4 separate regions of the Homo sapiens genome follow, and all the other regions are linked to region 2. The links come from fine-mapping of genetic effects on gene expression. A gene starts in region 2. Each other region holds a variant in brackets. All regions are shown on one strand. Distances are between the middles of the regions. Region 1 has its middle 59 kb from the start of WDR41. Region 2 holds the start of PDE8B (phosphodiesterase 8B). Region 3 has its middle 27 kb from the start of PDE8B. Region 4 has its middle 10 kb from the start of WDR41.

What was found. PIP is the estimated chance that this variant, and not a neighbour inherited with it, causes the effect. A credible set is the group of variants that fine-mapping cannot tell apart.
Region 1: its variant is the best candidate, but not a certain one, in a credible set for the expression of PDE8B in cerebellar hemisphere (GTEx, PIP 0.57).
Region 3: its variant is the best candidate, but not a certain one, in a credible set for the expression of PDE8B in lung (GTEx, PIP 0.58).
Region 4: its variant is the best candidate, but not a certain one, in a credible set for the expression of PDE8B in lymphoblastoid cells (GTEx, PIP 0.74).

Annotation. Positions count from the first base shown.
Region 1 is chr5:77,548,537-77,553,536 of GRCh38, reverse strand. It overlaps a transcript of WDR41 not described here. Among named protein-coding and RNA genes, the nearest start is that of WDR41, 59 kb to the right of the region's middle. The variant T/C (reference allele first, on the strand shown) is at 3,053.
Region 2 is chr5:77,208,788-77,213,787 of GRCh38, reverse strand. It overlaps PDE8B (phosphodiesterase 8B), which reads right to left and starts at 3,108. Exons shown (of 22, transcript NM_003719.5): 1 at 2,524-3,108. The coding sequence starts at 2,862.
Region 3 is chr5:77,181,038-77,186,037 of GRCh38, reverse strand. It overlaps a transcript of PDE8B not described here. Among named protein-coding and RNA genes, the nearest start is that of PDE8B, 27 kb to the left of the region's middle. The variant A/G (reference allele first, on the strand shown) is at 2,030.
Region 4 is chr5:77,500,185-77,505,184 of GRCh38, reverse strand. It overlaps a transcript of WDR41 not described here. Among named protein-coding and RNA genes, the nearest start is that of WDR41, 10 kb to the right of the region's middle. The variant T/C (reference allele first, on the strand shown) is at 2,251.

The sequences.
Region 1 (5,000 bases), 340 kb before region 2:
GATTTGAAAGATGGCATTCCCTCCAAAATTCATGTGTTGAAACTTAATCCCCATTATGATGGTATTGAGAGGTGGGGTCTTTTGGGGAAGTGATTAAATCAGGGGGATTCTGCTCTCATGAATGAATTGGTGCCTAGCTGGAGGGAACTAGCTTAGGCCCTTTTTGCCCTTTACATCCCTTCAGCTATTTGAGAACACAGCATTTGTCCCCTCAAGAGGATGCAGCAACAGGGCTCCATCTTGGTTGAAAGTGGAGATGGGGGCCTCACCAGATACCAAATGCTGGTGATTAAATCTTGGACTTCCCATCCTCCAGAGCTGTGAAAAATAAATGTCTGTTCTTTATAAATTACCCAGTTTGAGGTATTTTGTTATAGCAGCAAAAAAGGACTAAGGCATATGACTTGCAAATATTTTCTCCTGAGTGTGTAGTTTTCCTTTTCATCCTCTTTATATGGCTTTCACAGAACAAACATTTCTAATTTCAGGGAGGTCCAATTCATCAGTTTTTCTTTTTATGGATCATGCAGTTGGTGTCAAGTCTGGCAACTACTGGCTTAGCGCCAGATCCTGACAACTTTCTTCCATGTGTTTTGCTGAAAGTCTTATAGGTTTGTTTTACATTTAAGCCTGTGATCCAATTTAAGCTCATTTTTTATATAAAGCATGAAATTTAGATCTAGGGTTTTTTTCCCCATATGGATATGCAATTGTTCCAGCATCATTTGTTGAAAAGGTTATTCCTCCTCCTTTAAATTGGTTTTGCACCTTTGTCAAGTCAGTGTGGCAGACTGTGTGAATCTATTTCTGGGTATCCTGTGCTGCTCCGTTGATTCATGTGTCTACCCCTCTGCCCACACCACACTCTCTTGATTACAGTAATTATATAGCCAGGCTTAATATGGGTAGAGTAGTTTCTCCCATTTCTTTGTCTTTCTTCTCTATCAAGATTGCTCTAGCTATTCAGGGCCTGTGCCTTTTCATATATATTTTAGCATAAGCTTGCCTCGGTCTATGAAAAAAATATTGCTGGGATTTTGATAGGAGTTACACTAAACTATAGACCAATTTGGGGAGAATTGACAGCATTACTAAACTGAGTCTTCCAGTTCATAAACATGATATATCTCTTCATTTATTTAAGTCTTCTTTGACTTTCACAAAATCAGCATTTTGTAATTTGTAGCATATAGATCTTGCACATGTTAAGTAAATGCATAAGTATTTCATTTTCCTTGGAGTTATTGTAAATTGCCCTGTGTTTTTAATGTCAGCTTCCGCATGTTCACTGTTACTATAATTGATTTTTATGTGTCTTTATATTTATTTAAATTACTAATATATTTAGATTTATTTTGACAATTTTATTTAGTGGTTTGTATTTGCCCTACCTTTTCTATGGTCTTTCTTGTCCTCCCCTGCATCAATTGCATTTTTTTTCTCATTCAATTTTTCCCCTACTAGTTAGGAGATTTTATTTTATTTTATTTTATTTTATTTTATTTTATTTTATTTTATTTTATTTTATTTTATTTTATTTTATTTTATTTTATTTTTTGAGACAGAGTCTTGCTCTGTTGCCCAGGCTGGAGTGCAGTGGCACGATCTCGGCTCGCTGCAACCTCCGCCTCCCTAGTTCAAGCGATTCTCATGCCTCTAGCCTCCCAAGTAGCTGGGATTACAGGCTCGTGCCACCACACCCAGTTAGTTTTTGTATTTTTAGTAGAGAAGGGGTTTCACCATGTTGGCCAGGCTGGTCTCAAACTCCTGACCTCAGGTGATCCACCCACCTCGGCCTCCCAAAGTGCTGGTACTACAGTCAACAGCCACCTCGCCCAGGCTTTATTTTTTTATTTTTTGAGTCAGAGTCTCACTCTGTCACCCAGGCTGGAGTGCAGTGGTGCAATCTCAGCTCACTTCAGCCTCTACCTCCTGGGTTCAAGCAATTCTCATTCCTCAGCCTCCCAAGTAGCTGGGATTACAGGTGAGCACCACCACACCAGGCTAATTCTTGTGTTTTTAGTAGCGACAGGGTTTCGCTATGTTGGCCGGGCTGGCCTCAAACTCCTGACCTCAGGTGATCTTCCTGCCTCAGCCTCCCAAAGTGCTGGGATTACAGGCATGAGCCACCACACCCAGCTAGTAAGGAAATTTTATGCTATATTATTTTTACTTTGTTAGTCATTCTAAAATTAGCTTTTGAATATCATTTATCAAAATCTAACATGAATTAATATTTTTGCCCCCTTCTTAAACATACAAAATCCTTAGGACATTTTATTTTATTTTATTCTTTCTTTCTGAAATTTTATTTTATAATTTCAGATTTTATTTTCAATTCACAGGGTACTGTGCAGGATTGTTACGTGAGTACATAGCATGATGCTGAGGTTTCGGGTACAAATGATCCTGTCACCCAGGTAGTGAGCCTAGTACTCAATAGCCTAGTACTTTTCAGCCCTTACTCCCCTCTCTCTCTCCTTCCTCTAGGAGGCCCCAGTGTCTATTGTTCCCGTTTTTATGTCATGTTTACCCAATGCTTAGCTCCCACTTATAAGTGAGAACCTGTGGTATTTGGTTTTCTGTTCCTGCATTAATTTGCTTAGGTAAGGACATGACTTTATTCCTTTATATGGCTGCATAGTATTCCATGGTATACATGTACTATATTTTCTTTATGCAGGCCAACATTGATGGGCATCTAGATTGACTCCATGTCTTTGCTATTATGAGTAGTGCTGTGATGAACATATGAGTACATGTGTCTTTTTGGTAGAATGATTTATTTGTCTTTGGTTATAATTCAGTAATGGGATTTCTGGGTCAAATGGCAGTTCTGTTTTCAGTTTTATGTGAAATCTCCAAACTGCATTCCACAGTGATTAAACTAATTCGTACATTCCCACCAACAGTGTATAAGCATTCTCTTTTCTCCACAGGCTTGCCAGCATCTGTTATTTTTGGCTTTTTAACAATAGCCATTTTGACTAGTGTCAGATGGTATCTCATCATGGATTTGATTTGCATTTCTCTGTTGAGCATTTTCCCATTA[T/C]GTTTGTTGGCCACTTTTTTGTCTTCTTTTGGGAAGTGTCTGTTCATGTCTTTTGCCTATCTTTTAAAGGGAATGTTTGGTTTTTTGCTGGTTGAATTGTTGAAGTTACTTATGGATTCTGGATATTAGACCTTTGTTGGATGAATAGTTTGCAAATATTTTCTCCCATTTTGTAAGTTGTCTATTAAATCTGTTGATCATTTTTTTTGCTGTGCCGAAACTATTTAGTTTAATGAGATCACACTTGTCAATTTTTGTTTATGCTGCAATTACTTTTGAGAATTTAGTCACAAATTCTTTCCCAAGGCCAATGTCCAGAATGGTATTTCCTGGGTTTTCTTTGAGGATTCTTATAGTTTGAGGTCTTAGATTTCAATCTTTAATCCACCTTGAGTTAATTTTTATATATGGTGAAATGTCGAGGTCCTTTTTTTTTCTTCTGGTTATGGCTAGCCAGCTATCTCAGCACCATTTGCTGAATACAGTCCTTTATCCATTGTTTATTTTTGTCAACTTTTTTGAATATCAGATGGTTGCAGGTGTGCAGCTTTATTTCTGGGTTTTCTATTCTGTTTCATTGGTCTATGTGTCTGTTTTTGTACTAGTACCATGCTGTTTTGGTTACTGTAGCCTTATAGAATAATTTGAAGTTGGGTAATGTGATGCCTCCTGCTTCACTCTTTTTGCTTAGGATTGCTATGGATATTTAATTTCAGAAGTTTTTTCTAATTCTGTGAAAAATGACATTGGTAGCTTGATAGGAATAGTGTTGAATTTATAGATTGCTTTGGGCTATGTCCATTTTAATAATATTGATTCTTCCAATCCATGAGCATAGAATGTTTTTTCATTTGTTCGTGTTGTCTATGATTTCTTTCAGCAGCATTTTGTAGTTCTCCTCATAGAGATCTTTCACCTCCTTAACTAGATGTGTACCTAGGTTTGTTTTTTTGGGGGTGTTTTTTTTGGAGCGGCTATTGTAAAATGAGATTATGTTCTTGATTTGGCTCTCAGCTTGAATGCTATTGTTGTATAGAAATGTTACTGATTTGTGTACATTGATTTTGTGTCCTGAAACTTTCCCGGAGGTCATTTATCAGTTTTAGGAGCCTTTTGATAGAGTCTTTAGGGTTTTCTAGGTATATAATCATATCATCAGTGAAGAAAGATAATTTGACTCATTATTTTTCTTTTGTTTTAAATTTCCATAGGTTATTGGGGAACAGGTAATATTTGTTACATGAGTAAGCTCTTTAGTGGTGATTTGTGAGATTTTGGTGCACCCATCACCCAGGCAGTATACACTGCACCCTATTTGTAGTCTTTTATCCTTCACCCCCTTTCCCCCTTTCCCCCTGAGTCCCCAAAGTCCATTGTGTCATTCTTATTCCTTTGCATCCTCATAGCTTAGCTCCCACTATAAGCGAGAACATACGATGTTTGGTTTTCCATTCCTGAGTTACTTCACTTAGAATAATAGTCTCCAATCTCATCCAGAACACTGCAAATGCCATTAATTCATTCCTTTTTATGGCTGAGTAGTATTCCATCGTATATATACATATACCACAGTTTTTTTTATCCACTCATTGACTGATGGGCATTTGGGTTGGTTCCATGATTTTGCAATTGTGAGTTGTGCTGCTATAGACATGCATGTGCAAGTATCTTTTCCATATAATGACTTCTTTTCCTCTAGATAGATACCCAGCAGTGGGATTGCTGGATCAAATGGTAGTTCTACTTTTAGTTCTTTAAGGAATCTCCACACTGTTTTCTATAGTGGTTGTACTAGTTTACATTCCCACCAGCAGCATAGAAATGTTCCCTGTTCACAGCATCCATGCCAACATCTACTATTTTTTGATTCTTTGATTATGGCCATTCTAGCAGAAGTAAGATGGTATCACATTGTGGTTTTGATTTGCATTTCCCTGATCATTAGTGA
Region 2 (5,000 bases):
CTCTGGGGAATACCAGAGGCCAAGTAGATAATGAGGATACACTTCATAATTGATGTAAAATGGCCAGGGGGAGGGGGTGGAAACTATTACAACCTTCCACCACTGTAAACAGGACCAAATGGTAAAGATTTTATTTTTCCACCTGTGTGCTTTGGAAAGGGGTGGGGCACCACCACGTGCCTAGCAACTATCTCAAACTCTTACGGCAAAAAAAGAATGCTTAGTCTACAAAAAAATGAATGTAAAGTTTTTATAAAATTATCTCAGCAACAAAAGGGCACAGAACATGTGAACTTTACGATTGAGAAAAGACAATACAACACCGAGTCACAGGCCTAAAAGGATACTATTAAATATATTAGGGCAGTTCTGTGATAATAATTCTGTAAGATTTGCATAAATAACTCTGGTCTCAAATTTCACTTCAAATATATACTTTCTGAGATCCACACAATGCAAAGTAGTGTTAAGTCAATGAACCAGGGGTTTCATTTCCAACATTCCCAGTAATGGGTTAGAGTGAATTAAGCTCTTATTTGGGAATCTTCTTGATAAAGCAAAATGAGTTAAACTCCTACCCAGGTCAAGCCTTTTAATACTTAAGCCAAGTAGCAATGAGATTAATACAAGTTTATACAAGCTGCTAATAATTGGGGCTCATTGTCCCTTCAGTTTTTACTTCATTTGGTCTCTAAGCAGCCTCTTGAGGGAAGTATTAAAAATGTACAGAATGGGTTCATTCAGTATTCTTTCTTCTACTGAACAAACATGGAGTAGCTAGAGTTGCCAAGTACTAAACTGAGATTATAGATATTCTAGAAAACAAAAATTCACAATTTCTCTGGAGCAACCAAAAAAAGTATCACAAAGTTCATGAGCTGTCACAATTTTGAACTACTGCTTCAGGTCTTCAACCGTCAGGCAAAAGGATGGTCTTTACTGATAATATCCCAACTTAATATTTTCACCAAATTTAACATTTTCATCCCTGAAAATTGCTCCTAAAGCTAACTTTGTGTGAACAGGGAGGGGGAGAGAGAGAGAGCTTGACAAAAGCAAAGTATAGCGTTCAGCACATGCCTCTGTAACGAATGGGCAACTGGTAGGTTTGTACTGTCATAAATCCTAGACTCTAGTCTTCAGACATGCTATGCTAAGATCACACTGTTAACATTCAATAGTTAGGAGAGAAAGCTTACTCCTGGCACATAGTAGGTGCTCAATAAACGATGTTTTTACTATAATGGTGATTATGATTACTGCCAGAGAAACACTGCAACCACAAGCAAACATCAGTCAAGCTTCATGTTAAACAATCAGATGCTGTTAAAAAAAAAATAGGTTCATTAAAAAACTTTTGGACTTCCAGATTGAAGCCAAAACATGTTATCCTTCTCCTCACTCCTCCACTGTGGGCTGCCTTCATCCAATGAAGACCAAGTTTTTAACTATTAAAAATACAAATGTGTCTTTGACAAATAATCCATGGAATGGTTCTTGGTAACCTATTGACCAGGTAAAGGCTGTGATTCTATCTGACATTAGGAGTATTTTTTTCTCTCTGTACAATAGGATATGCCATTGTTATCTTGTTTGCTGAAAGGAAAAAAGACCCAGTGCCCAGATTTACACAATGAAAAGCCTCTTGGATTTAACGGTACTTTGAGAACATACGGGAGGACACTATTTAAATAATTATTTTTCTTCTGTCTTTAAGAAATAAATATTTAGCGACTGCTTTAACCATCTAAACAATTTTTTCCACTTCCTCAAAATCCCACTCTCTGGGAAGATCAGTTGTATGTGCAGAATCATCCTCAGACAGCTGTACTGCACTGGAAACCACGTCCCCTCACGGTGGCTCTGCTGACACTCCGAACTCATGGCCCGGTTCTCTCAATTCTGTCTAGGATGCAGCCAACCCAGAGAAACGTTACAGTGACAAACAACAGGTTCCACTCTGCTCCGTTCCCACATCTCTTAAAACACGAACACTCATTCATTCACAAATCCCTACGCTCGGTTCCTGTGCTGAGACTCCAGCCTGGCTGGTAATCCCAGGTAAAAATCGGAATATGGGGCACTATCTATCCTGGTGCTGCAACTGCACCAGTCACCTACAAGGCACGCAAATCCAGCTCAGTGCTCAGATTTCATTCAACAGGACTGGCCACCGAATGCTCTCAATGGTCCCCACCCCTCTTCCTGCATAAACCAAGCCACAGCCTTCCTGCCCTCAAGGAGGAACAGGCCAGCCCACCTGCTTCCTTCTGCGCTCCCTTCCCCGCCCAGTCCCCCAGGACCAGCTAAGGACGCTTCCAGGACCCCTCCAGGGGCCTTTTTCTGACCACATTTCCTGGGCTCCCATCATCTCCACAAATGAAAAGTAAACTCCTCCTTAGTGACAACCTCTCCAAACCAACCGCCTCACGGTCACCCAACTCCGCCGGAGCCCCCTACCCGTGCGAGCCCCGCCGACGGGGCGGACGGCCCCCACGGCGTGTGCCAGCGCGGGGCATTTACCTTCACGCTGGTGTAGCAGGTCTGAGTCTCGGCCTCGGCGCTGCTGCAGCAGTGGCGCCTCCGGCCCCTGCTGGTGGTCGCGGCGGGGGCTGCGGAACCCGCGCTGCTACCGCTGCCCAGCTCGGTGCGGGCCCTGCGGACGCGGGCTACGCTGGGGGGTCCCGACGCGCGGCTCGGGGGGATGGCGTCGGCGGCGTCGGTCTGGACGAAGAGGCCGGGCAGGGGTGCCGCCGGGCCCTGCGACACGCTGGTGGTCTGGCGGGGCGAGCTGGACTCGTCCGAGTCCCGGCAGTAGATCACGCCGCTCTGCGAGACATGGATGCTGGGGGCGCAGCCCATCCCTCGGCCGGGCTCCCCCGCGCGCCCGCCCGCGCCCGCGGCCGCCGGGACCCAGCGCACCCGCTGCCACCTGCAGTGAGGGGGCGGCCGCGGCGGCGCCCGGACTGCGCGCCCCCCGGCCTGTGTGTCCGCCGCTCCGTCGGGCTGGCCGCGGTGCCCCCCGCCGAGCCTCCGGGGACCGCGCGCGTCACCCCAACTTTCCCTTTTGGGCCATCTTCCTCCCCGAGCGGGGGAGCGCGCATACACAGCGCCCCGCGCGCACCAGCGGCCGCCACCCTCCCCGCCGCGGCGCCCCAAACACGCTCCCCGCGCCTCCGCCTTCCCCTCCTCCCTCGGCGCGGCCCCCGCCGCCGCCCAGCTCGACCTCGCCGGGCTCCCGCACCCGCGGCCCTGGGCCAGGGCGCCCGCCCGCCTGCCCGCCTGCCTGCACCTTCTTTCCCCACTTTCGGTCTGCGCCCGTCCCCTCCCTCCCTCGCTCCCACCCTCCTTCCTCCTCAGGTGCCCCGGCTCCGCGGCCGCAGCCGCCCGGGCCCCACTGCGCCCCTCCGCCCCTCCCGCCGCTCCCGGAGCTCTCCCGACAGGGCAGAGCGTGCCCGCGGCTCGGCTCCGCCGCGGGGCCCCTGTGCGCGGCAGCTGGCACCGCGCCTCGGCGCCCTCCCCTCCTCCTCCGCTGTCCAGAGGCCTCGTCTCTTCTGCACTCATCCCGACGCCGCCCCCAGCGCCCCAGCCCCTCTTCCCCTGAAGGGCTGTGTAAGCCTCTCGCTTTTCACCAACACATTTTCACACATCCCAGAGCTAAACACCAGGAGGCCCCTCCCGAAATGGCAGGGGCCCTACAGCCCAGGCCCACCCACCGCATTTGCTTGCCTCTCAACACACCCGGGAAGTGATGGAGAGACCTCATGGTTCCGTCCTCTTCCCCCAGCCCCACCGCCTACTCCGAAGGCTGAGTTGGATGGTGACCCAGTCTTCAGAAGAAGCCCATTCCATGTCTACTCATCGTTTGGAAGTTTGTGCCAAGGGATGGGAGGCCCTGCGGAGGAAGGCACCCTTGAACACATACGTTCCCCTAAGATCCAAGGCAAGAACAGAAAGAAGCTGTCTGATGGTTCTTGGCTTTCTCCCCCATTTTCACCTCTTCCTTAGGTGTCACTAAATGTTCATGCTGGTTTCTATCCCGTCCAGCCGCCCATGTCAACTGCTGTTCCTCACACTCTGGGCTGGGCAGTCAACAAGGCCTTCCCTCATTCTCCTTGGTGAGGCATGCACAGACTGAGCTGTGCTGGAGGAGAGGAAGAATGCCTTTAGAAGGATGGCTGCTGTTCATCCTTCCCTTGTAAACTCTGAGTTACAGCTGCGAGACACCACTGCCCATTCAGTCACTGGTTCCCGCAGTAATTCCTGCCCGATTTTCACAATGGCACGGGGAGATAAATTAGATGGTCTAAGAAAGGATTTTATCTAGAGTTGCTTATACGGACAAGGGCAGTAACATAGAGGCTTAATGCAAGGCACAAAGAAGTATCCAATTTTAAGGTTTGTTTTTTGTTTTTTTTTCATTCTTATTTTCCTTTTTCTTCCTGGACCACTCTTGGATGTGACTGGATGAAGACTTCAAAAGACAGTTTCTAAATTTCATAGAGAAGCAAGATATCATTCCCAATCCCAAATTCAGTTATACAGGGAGAGTCTAACCTTATTCTTCTACCTTTGCTTCTCTTCTCAGTTTAGCTCTCTTTTTTTGATACAAAAAAACTCCATCTCCAGCTAACCTGGAAAAAGTCTATGCTGTATTTTTTAATGGACAGGCAAATTGCTCATAAAATTTCTGCACAGGTTGGGTCCTCCTAGAAGCAGATTCTGAGATGGTGTTTAGCAGGCAGAGGGAGGCTTTTTAGGAAGTGCTCTTGTAGTCAACATTTGTGGGAGGAAATAAAGGGAGGGAATGGAGGGAGGCAAGCTTGAGCAGAGGGAGAAATTGACCAAGCCTCAGGCATCCCTGCAGGGAGGATTCTGAAGGTGGGATGATGCTTCAGAGTTGTTCTGAGTTGGGGCTGGGTTCTGAGTTGTTCTGGTGGGCCTTTATACCCCAGCATGGACCAGTCTTTACATGCAGGCCACCTCAGCGACCTTGGGCA
Region 3 (5,000 bases), 28 kb after region 2:
CTTTACATAGATTATCTCATTTAATCAGGACAATAACCCTGCAAGGGAAGTATTACTATTCCCATTTGACAGATGAGGAATACTACTGGCAAGCAATGGAGCTGGGATTAGCACCCAGGCAGTCTGCTTCAGAGTTGGTGCTCCTAACCCCTAGGTTTCCCATCTCTAACCCACAGCCACTCGGCTTCACATTACAGTCAATGCCATCAATAAAATTTGCTTGATGTAAGTAGTAACATTGGGCCGCTTTAAATATTACCCAGGGAATTCAGAAAAATAACAGTTTTGGGTTAGGAAATGGCAGGGGGTGGGGGGACAGGAGGAGATGGATGTGAGGTGAAGAGGAAGATGACTCCATAACATGGCTCAGTAACCTACAGGCCCCCTCCAATGAAAACAGCATGACTACATCTCAGGATGTGCTGTCTGACAGAGACAATGTGTTATGGGCTGAATTGTGTTCAACACAATTCTTAGGTTGAAGTCCTAACTCCCAGTACCTCAGAATGTAACTGTATTTGGAGATAGAGTCTTTAAAGAGGAATTAATTTTAAATGAGGTCATTAACATGGCTCCTAATCCAATATGACTGGTGTCTTTGTAAGAAGAGATTAGGGCATAGACACACAGAGGGAAGACCATATGAAGACAGAGGGAAAAGATGACCGTCTACAAGCCAAGAAGAGAGGTCCTCAGAATTAACCAATGCTGCTGATACCTTATAGTTCTGAGGCTTTTAGCCTCCAGAACTATAAAGAAGTCAATCTCGGTTGTGTGAGCTATCAGTCTTTAGTACTTTATTATGGCAGCTCTAGCAAACTAATACAGAGTGCTATGTATTTACCATTTTCTCTTTCTGGACACACTGAAAAGCATTTCCTTGTCTCCACGCATCAGGTTGAGGTCTGTGTGACTAGTTCTTACCAAAAGACTGTAAATACAAGAAATATGCTTCATTTCTGAGCCAAGGCATTTACAAGCAGGTGTTGATTCTCCACTGTCTCTGTTTCCTCCCCTGCCATAGGACCATCAAGACTGCATGTTCTAGATAGTGCAGTTACAAGATGGCAGAGCTCTGATAGCCTGGTGCCCTGAGTGCCTCTGTGGAGCAGGGCACTCTGCTAACCTGCTTTGGACATAAAATGTGAGTGACAAATAAATCTTTATATTTTATTTTTCATTTTTATTTTATTATTTTATTTTTATTTTTATTTTGAAAAATTTAAAGAAGGGTCTCACTATGTTGCCTAAGCTGGTCTTAAACTTCTGGCCTCAAGCAATCCTCCTGCCTCAGCCCCCTAAAGTGCTGGGATTATAGGTGTGAGCCATCATGCCCAGCCTCTTTCTATTTTTTAAGCTACTGAGGTTTCAGGGTTGATTTGTGGCTGCAGCATAGCCTAGCCACTTCTCACACATAAAGCTACCTCAGAAAAGCCAGGGTACCAAAAACAGATATTTTAGGAATTCATGTGATATTAGATAAAATCATACTAAGTTGTTGTTTTTGTAGGCAAAAAATGGTCAAATATGGACAGTTTCATTTGTGTGACCTCTAACTGCACATATTTGCAGACCCTTACGGTTGGAAAAGACCTTGGCAACCAACAAGTCCTACCATCCATAGTTTATAGACAATACTTCTGAGACCCTCTCAGATTAAATGATTTATCAAAACTCCAAAAACATGTTAGTGGAAGAATTGGACCCCAAATCAGAAATTACATTTCATTTAGGGAAGGCAAGTTAGCAGTATGTATTTAAAAGTATATATCTGGCCAGCACGGTGGCTCACACCTGTAATCCCAGTACTTTGGGAGGCTGAAGTGGGAGGATCACTTGAACTTAGGAGTTTGAGACCAGCTGGGGCAACACAGTGAGACTCTGTCTCTACAATAATTAAAAAATTAGCTGGGCATGGTGGCGCACGCCTATAGTCCCAGCTAATCCGGATGCTAAGGCAGGAGGACTGCTTGGATGGGGAGGTCAAGCCTGCAGTGAGCCAATAATGCACTACTCCCCTCCAGCCTGG[A/G]CAACAGAGGGAGATTCTGTTTTTTTTTAAAAAAAAAAAGTATGTATTTAAATAGTAACCATGATCTTTCACATAATAATTCCACCCCTAGGAACAGATTCACCAGAAATATCTAAACAGGTATGCAGAAATATATAAATAAATGGATCCACTGTGTGATCTTTCACAAGTACTGTATGTGACTGTGAAAACTGAGAAATAATCCAAATGCCCATTCACAGGGATTGGTTAAATAAATTACGGTTTACCCATCTGCTCTCAAGCTTACAGAGTTAAAAATAAAGGAGTCAATCTCTTTGCTGACATGAAAAGACACCCAGATCATGTTGATGAAAGCAAGAAAGTCCAAGTAGAAAAAGAAAAGAAAATTATCACTCATAAAAGATTTTTAAATCTCTATGCACTGAGGTGTATAAAGCATCTGACACGTAGTAGGCACTTTTTGCCCTCCCCTTTTCTTCCTTCTTGCATGTCGCTTGGATCATTGTAAATACACCCAGCTGGCTGGTTCAGCTCCACCACCTACTAGCTGTGTCATCTAAGATGAGAAGTCTCAGCTCTCCCATTTGTAAAATTTAAAGAAATAGTAGCGCCCAGGCACAGTGGCTCATGCCTGTAATCCCAGCACTTTGGGAGGCCGAGGCGGGTGGATCATGAGGTCAGGAGTTCGAGACCAGCCTGACCAACATGGTGAAACCCTGTCTCTACTGAAAATACAAAAATTAGCCAAGCCTGGTGGTGCGCACCTGTAGCCCCAACTACTCGGGAGGCTAAGGCAGGAGAACCACTTGAACTTGGGAGGCAGAGGTTGCAGTGAGCCGAGATCAAACCACTGTACTACAGCCTGGACAACAGAGCAAGACTCTGTCTCAAAATAATTAATAATAATAATAATAATAATAATAGCACATCTTCAGAAGGTGTTGATAGGATTACATGATAGTGTTTACATAAAGAGCTTAGTCCAATGCCTAGCGCCTAAGTACTTAAAAAATTTTCACCATTATGTTGATATTCATCTCTGAAAACCTGAAGAAACAAGGTTCTTTGTGGCTTTTTAATCTCTTATAATAATTATCTAGTAAAAAAAATTGTCATCCTGCTTATTTCCCTTCCTAAAGCTAAATTAAAAAGCTAAAGAGCAGTGTTATCAAAAAAGCAAATACATAATATATTGAATTTAAAATGTGTTTATTAACTGATTCTCCATAAATAAAAATAAGATGTGTATATAAAGTAAAAAAAAAAAAAAGCAGTGCTTATCTCAATAAGCTCTGGCAATTAGGCATCCAATATTTAATACAGCTTTTAAAGACAATTTAACTATTTCATTACCAAACTGATAAGCTGCTTTTCTGAGAAGTTGACATTAACTGAGTCATTCCCAGGTAAGTCAATTGTTTATCAGATATGATGTAAGCGGCCTCCATGAGCTCTGCAAGACTGGGCTGTCTTCCACTGAGGGGTTAGTGTGGGGCTTCCCCTCTACTCATGCCTGTAACAGGGAGGTTGTGGCTGGAATCTTTCAAATGCACAGAAAGGATGTCTTCCAGGATTATATAACCAAGCTCAAACTTTACCAGGACTTTCTATGTGAGATCCTTCCCAGTGCATTCTAAGCATTAACTAAACCAGTCAGGCTTACTTCCACCTATCTTTAAGCCTGAATGATTTGTGTAGCCCTATGAACAGATTGGAATTAAAATTCAATTCACCCACTGATCTAGTATCTCTTCCGTCCATAAACGCTCTTTGGAACCAAGTACAATCTGTAGCAAGACTGCAAAGAACTAGTGAGCATTCACAGGCTAAGTCTGGCAGATTACTGCCAGAGTGGAATCCAGAATTAAAGGCTCTGAGCCTTCCTGGCAGCTGAGGCCAGGACAGGTTGTACCTCTTGCCCTGAGTTTCACAACTGGTCAGTGGTACCACTGAGCTTGGAATCCAACTCCCTGGCCTCCAATCCATGCTCTTGCCACTGCTGATGAATTGTCATTCTTCTGTTTTTGCTTCTTGGAAAACCGAACCTCTACAAAGTTAAAATAACTTATTCAAGGTCAAGAGGGCAGTCAAGTAGAACTGGCAATGCGAACTGCTGGGTTATAAAATCCGAGAGGGCGGGTCCTCTGGCCCTCGCCTCCCCTGGGGACCTTGTGTAAATGTTTTCGTTGATTGTCTCCCAACACACAGTTTAGAGGAACTCTCTCTTCTAGGTTAGCACTGCACGTCCAACTTCAGGTTCAGACAGAAGCACTTGTAACTATCAGAGCCAGCATGCCCCCAGCCACCCTGACCTCCCGACCGACCGTCCATGGAAGGCAGCCTGGGCAAATAACCACCACTCAACTGCGGAGGTCTTACAGTCCTAGTAACTCACACCTCGCCGCCAGCAGTGTTTTTCTGGAGCTGGCAACCTGGGGACGGGTAAACTGGTGTCAGATTGAGCCAGAAGCAGAATGGATGGGCACAGCTAGTCTTGAGGGTATAGAGGAGCCTGTGGACGGTTCAAGGCTTCTAGCCAAGCTTTTGTAAAGGCTGCTGCAAGCCTCACCTCTCCCAACAGTCCTTAGGAGCACAGCTACTTTGATCCTGGTAACTAGGTGCGTTTCAGAGGACACTCTGAACGCCTAGCGGAACGCCCCCAAGTTCAGAGTGGCAGCGCCGCCTGCGCAGCTTCCCCCTTGCACTAAGCGTCCCTCCCTACCACAGACTGTTCTCCCGGGCACTTTCCTGCGACCCCGCAGCGTGGGACCCTTCTTTGTACACACGTTCCAGCTCTTCCTTTGCTTTGCTCCACCTCCAAACATCCCTTCCCACAGGGGATGAGGCGGGTGGTTTAGTCCACGCTCCGTCTATTCACCCAGCTAGCGTTGTCCCTAGAACTTAGTGCAAGGGTGAGGGTGGGGATGGTGGTGGGGGTGGGGGTTGGGGTAGGGGTAGGGGTAGGGGTGGGTGCCCCATTGCAGAGTCC
Region 4 (5,000 bases), 290 kb before region 2:
CTGAGACACTTTGCTGAAGTTGCTTATCAGCTTAAGGAGATTTTGGGTGGAGACGATGGGGTTTTCTAAATATACAATCATGTCATCTGCAAACAGGGACAATTTGACTTCCTCTTTTCCTAATTGAATACCCTTTATTTCTTTCTCTTGCCTGATTGCCCTGGCCAGAACTTCCAACACTATGTTGAATAGGAGTGGTGAGAGAGAACATCCTTGTCTTGTGCTGGTTTTCAAAGGGAATGCTTCCAGTTTTTGCCCATTCAGTATGATATTGGCTGTGGATTTGTCATAAATATCTCTTATTATTTTGAGATACGTTCCATCGATACCTAGTTTATTGAGAGTTTTTAGCGTGAAGGGCTGTTGAATTTTGTCGAAGGCCTTTACTGCATCTATTGAGATAATCATGTGGTTTTTGTTGTTGGTTCTGTTTATGTGATGGATTACGTTTATTGATTTGCGTATATTGAACCAGCCTTGCATCCCAGGGATGAAGCTGACTTGATTGTGGTGGATAAGCTTTTTGATGTGCTGCTGGATTCGGTTTGCCAGTATTTTATTGAGGATTTTTGCATCGATGTTCGTCAGGGATATTGGTCTAAAATTCTCTTTTTTTGTTGTGTCTCTGCCAGGCTTTGGTATCAGGATGATGCTGGCCTCCTAAAATGAGTTAGGGAGGATTCCCTCTTTTTCTATTGATTGGAATAGTTTCAGAAGGAATGGTACCAGCTCTTCTTTGTACCTCTGGTAGAATTCAGCTGTGAATCCATCTGGTCCTGGACTTTTTTTGGTTGGTAGGCTATTAATTATTGCGTCAATTTCAGAGCCTGTTATTGTTCTATTCAGAAATTCAACTTCTTCCTGGTTTAGTCTTGGGAGGGTGTATGTGTCAAGGAATTTATCCATTTCTTCTAGATTTTCTAGTTTATTTGCATAGAGGTATAGTATTCTCTGATGGTAGTTTGTATTTCTGTGGGATCAGTGGTGATATCCCCTTTATCATTTTTTATTGCATCTATTTGATTCTTCTCTTTTTTTTTTCTTTATTAGTCTTGCTAGCAGTCTATCAATTTTGTTGATCTTTTCAAAAAGCCAGCTCCTGGATTCACTGATTTTTTGAAGGGTTTTTCGTGTCTCTATCTCCTTCAGTTCTGCTCTGATCTTAGTCATTTCTTCTCTTCTGCTAGTTTTTGAATGTGTTTGTTCTTGCTTCTCTAGTTCTTTTAATTGTGACGGTAGGGTGTCTATTTTAGATCTTTCCTGCTTTCCCTTGTGGGCATTTAGTGCTATAAATTTCCCTCTACACACTGCTTTAAGTGTGTCCCAGAGAGTCCGGTATGTTGTGTCTTTGTTCTCATTGGTTTCAAAGAAAATCTTTATTTCTGCCTTCATGTCATTATTTCCCCAGTAGTCATTCAGGACCAGGTTGTTCAGTTTCCATGTAGTTGAGTGGTTTTGAGTGAGTTTCTTAATCCTGAGTTCTAATTTGATTGCACTGTGGTCTGAGAGACAGTTTTTTGAGATTTCTGTTCTCTTATATTTGCTGAGGAGTGCTTTACTTCCAATTATGTGGTCAATTTTAGAATAAGTGTGATGTGGTGCTGAGAAGAATGTACATTCTGTTAATTTTGGGTGAAGAGGTCTGTAGATGTCTATTAGGTCTGCTTGGTGCAGAGCTGAGTTCAAGTCCTGGATATCCTTGTTAACCTTCTGTCTTGTTGATCTGTCTAATATTGACAGTGGGGTATTAAAATCTCCCATTATTATTGTGTGGGAGTCTAAGTCTCTTTGTAGGTCACTCAGGACTTGCTTTATGAATCTGGGTCCTCCTGTATTGGGTGCATATATATTTAGGATAGTTAGCTCTTCTTGTTGAATTGATCCCTTTACCATTATGTAATGGCCTTCCTTGTCTCTCTTGATCTTTGTTGGTTTAAAGTCTGTTTTATCAGAGACTAGGATGGCAACTCCTGCTTTTTTTTTTTTTTTTTTTTGCTTTCCATTTGCTTGGTAGATCTTCCTCCATCCCTTTATTTTGAGCCTATGTGTGTCTCTGCAGGTGAGATAGGTCTCCTGAATATAGCACACTGATGGGTCTTGACTCTATCCAATTTGCCGGTCTGTGTTTTTTAATTTGGGCATTTGGCCTGTTTACATTTAAGGTTAATATTGTTATGTGTGAATATGATCCATCATTATGATGTTAGCTGGTTATTTTTCCCGTTAATTGATGCAGTTTCTTCATAGCAT[T/C]GATGGTCTTTACAATTTGGCATGTTTTTGCGCTGGCTGGTACTGGTTGTTTATTTCCATGTTTAGTGCTTCCTTCAGGAGCTCTTGTAAGGCAGGCCTGGTGGTGACAAAATCTCTCAGCATTTGCCTGTCTGTAAGGGATTTTATTTCTCCTTCACTTATGAAGCTTAGTTTGGCTGGGTATGAAATTCTGGGTTGAAAATTATTTTAAGAATGTTGAATATCAGCCCCCGCTCTCTTCTGGCTTATAGGGTTTCTCCCGAGTGATCCGCTGTCAGTCTGATGGGCTTCCCTTTGTGGGTAACTGGACCTTTCTCTCTGGCTGCCCTTAACATTTTTTCATTCATTTCAACCTTGGTGAATCTGATAATTATGTGTCTTGGGGTTGCTCTTCTTGAGGAGTATCTTTGTGGTGTTATCTATTTTTCTGAATTTGAATGTTAGCCTGCCTTGCTAGGTTGGGGATGTTCTCCTGGATAATATCCTGAAGAGTGTTTTCCAACTTGGTTGCATTCTCCCGATCACTTTCAGGTACACCTATCAAACGTAGATTTGGTCTTTTCACATAGTCCCATATTTCTCGGAGGCTTTGGTCATTTCTTTTTACTTTTTTTTCTCTAACCTTTTCTTCTCACTTTATTTCATTAATTTGATCTTCAATCACTAATACCCTTTCTTCCATTTGATTGAATTGGCTATTGAAGCTTGTGTATGTGTCACGAAGTTTTCATGCTATGGTTTTCAGCTCCATCAGGTCATTTAAGATCTTCTCTATACTGTTTATTCTAGTTAGCCATTCATCTAACCTTTCTTCAAGGTTTTTAGCTTCCTTGTGGTGGGTTTGAACATGCTCCTTTAGCTCAGAGGAGTTTGTTATTACCAACTTTCTGAAGCCTATTTCTGTCAACTCATCAAAGTCATTCTCCATGCAGCTTTGTTTGATTGGTGGCGAGGAGCTGTGATGGAGAAGAGGTACTCTGGTGTTTAGAATTTTCAGTTTTTCTGCTCTGATTTCTCTCCATCTTTGTGGTTTTAATCTACCTTTGCTCTTTGATGTTGGTGACCTACCAATGGGGTGTAGATGTCCTTTTTGATGTTGATGCTATTCCTTTCTGTTTGTTAGCTTTCATTCTAACAGTCAGGACCCTCAGCTGCAGGTCTGTTGGAGTTTGCTGGAGGTCCACTCCAGACCCTGTTTGCCTTGGTATCACAAGCAGAGGCTGCAGAACAGCAAATATTGCTGCCTGATCCTTCCTCTGGAAGCTTTGTCCCAGAGGGGCATCCACCTATATGAGGTGTCTGTCAGCCCCTACTGGGAGGTGTCTCCCAGTTAGGCTACATAGGGGTCAGGGACCCACTTGAGGAGACAGTCTGTCTGTTCTCAGAGCTCAAACGCTGTGCTGGGAGAACCACTGCTCTCTTCAGAGCTGTCAGACAGGGACATTTAAGTCTGCAGAAGTTGTCTGCTGACTTTTGTTCAGCTATGCCCTGCCCGCAGAGGTGGAGTCTATAGAGGCAGTAGGCCTTGCTGAGCTGCGGCGGGCTCTGCCCAGTTCGAGCTTCCCGGCTGCTTTGTTTACCTACTCAAGCCTCAGCAATGGTGGATGCTCCTCTCCAAGCCAGGCTGCCGCCTTGCAGTTCAATCTCAGACAGCTACACTAGCAGTGAGCAAGGCCCTGTGGGTGTGGGGCCCGCTGAGCCAGAAATGGGAGAGAATCTCCTGGTCTGCCAGTGGCTAAGACCTTGGGAAAAGCGCAGTATTTGGGCAGAAGTGTCCTGTTTTTCCAGGTACAGTCTGTCACGGCTTCCCTTGGCTAGGAAACAGAAATCCTGCAACCCCTTGCACTTCCTGGGTGAGGCAACGCCTCGCCCTGCTTAGGCTTGCCCTACATGGGTTGTGCCCACTGTCCAAGCAGTCCCAATGAGATGAACCAGGTACCTCATTTGGAAATGCAGAAATCACCCATCTTCTGTGTCAATCACGCTGGGAGCTGCAGACCGGAACTGCTCCTATTTGTCCATCTTGGAACCTCCTGAAATATGTTTCTTGAGAGCAGGGACTACAAGATTCAAATTTTAAAGTTTTTAGTATCTTTTTTGGTTTTTAATGTAATGTCTCACAGCACATTCTAGTTCGTCTGCCCTTCTTTATACCTATTAGAAGCAGCTTGTCTATCTACAGGAAATCCTCTGGGATTTTCATTATGATTTGGTATCTGAACCCTAAGATTTCTTTTTAAGAACATTTTAAACTATGAATTCAATTTTGTAAATGGTTATGGGACTACTTAGGTTACCTATTTGAGCTTGAACAGATTTTGGTAATTTGTGATATTTGAGAAATCACTCCATTTCATCAGTTGTTAAATTTTTGTGTGTAGGGTTATTTATAATACTCTCTTATTATCCCTTTAATGTCTGTGGGGCCTACAGTAATATCCCTGCTTTCATTCCTTATACTGCTAATTTTTATCTTTTATTTTTTTTCTTTGTCAGTCTTGCTAGTGGCTTATTAATTTCACTGATCTTTTTAAACACCAGCTTTTGGTTTTATTGATTTTCTCCATTTAAGTTCACTGACTCTTGCCTCTGTCCTCTCCATTCTGCTATTAGTTCATCCACTGAGTTTTAAATTTTGGTTATTGTATGTTAAATGTAAAATTTTTCATTTGGTTCTTTCTATTTTATATGTTCTATTTCTTTGCTGATACATTGTGTTTTAATGTTTGTTTCAAGAGTGTTTATAATTG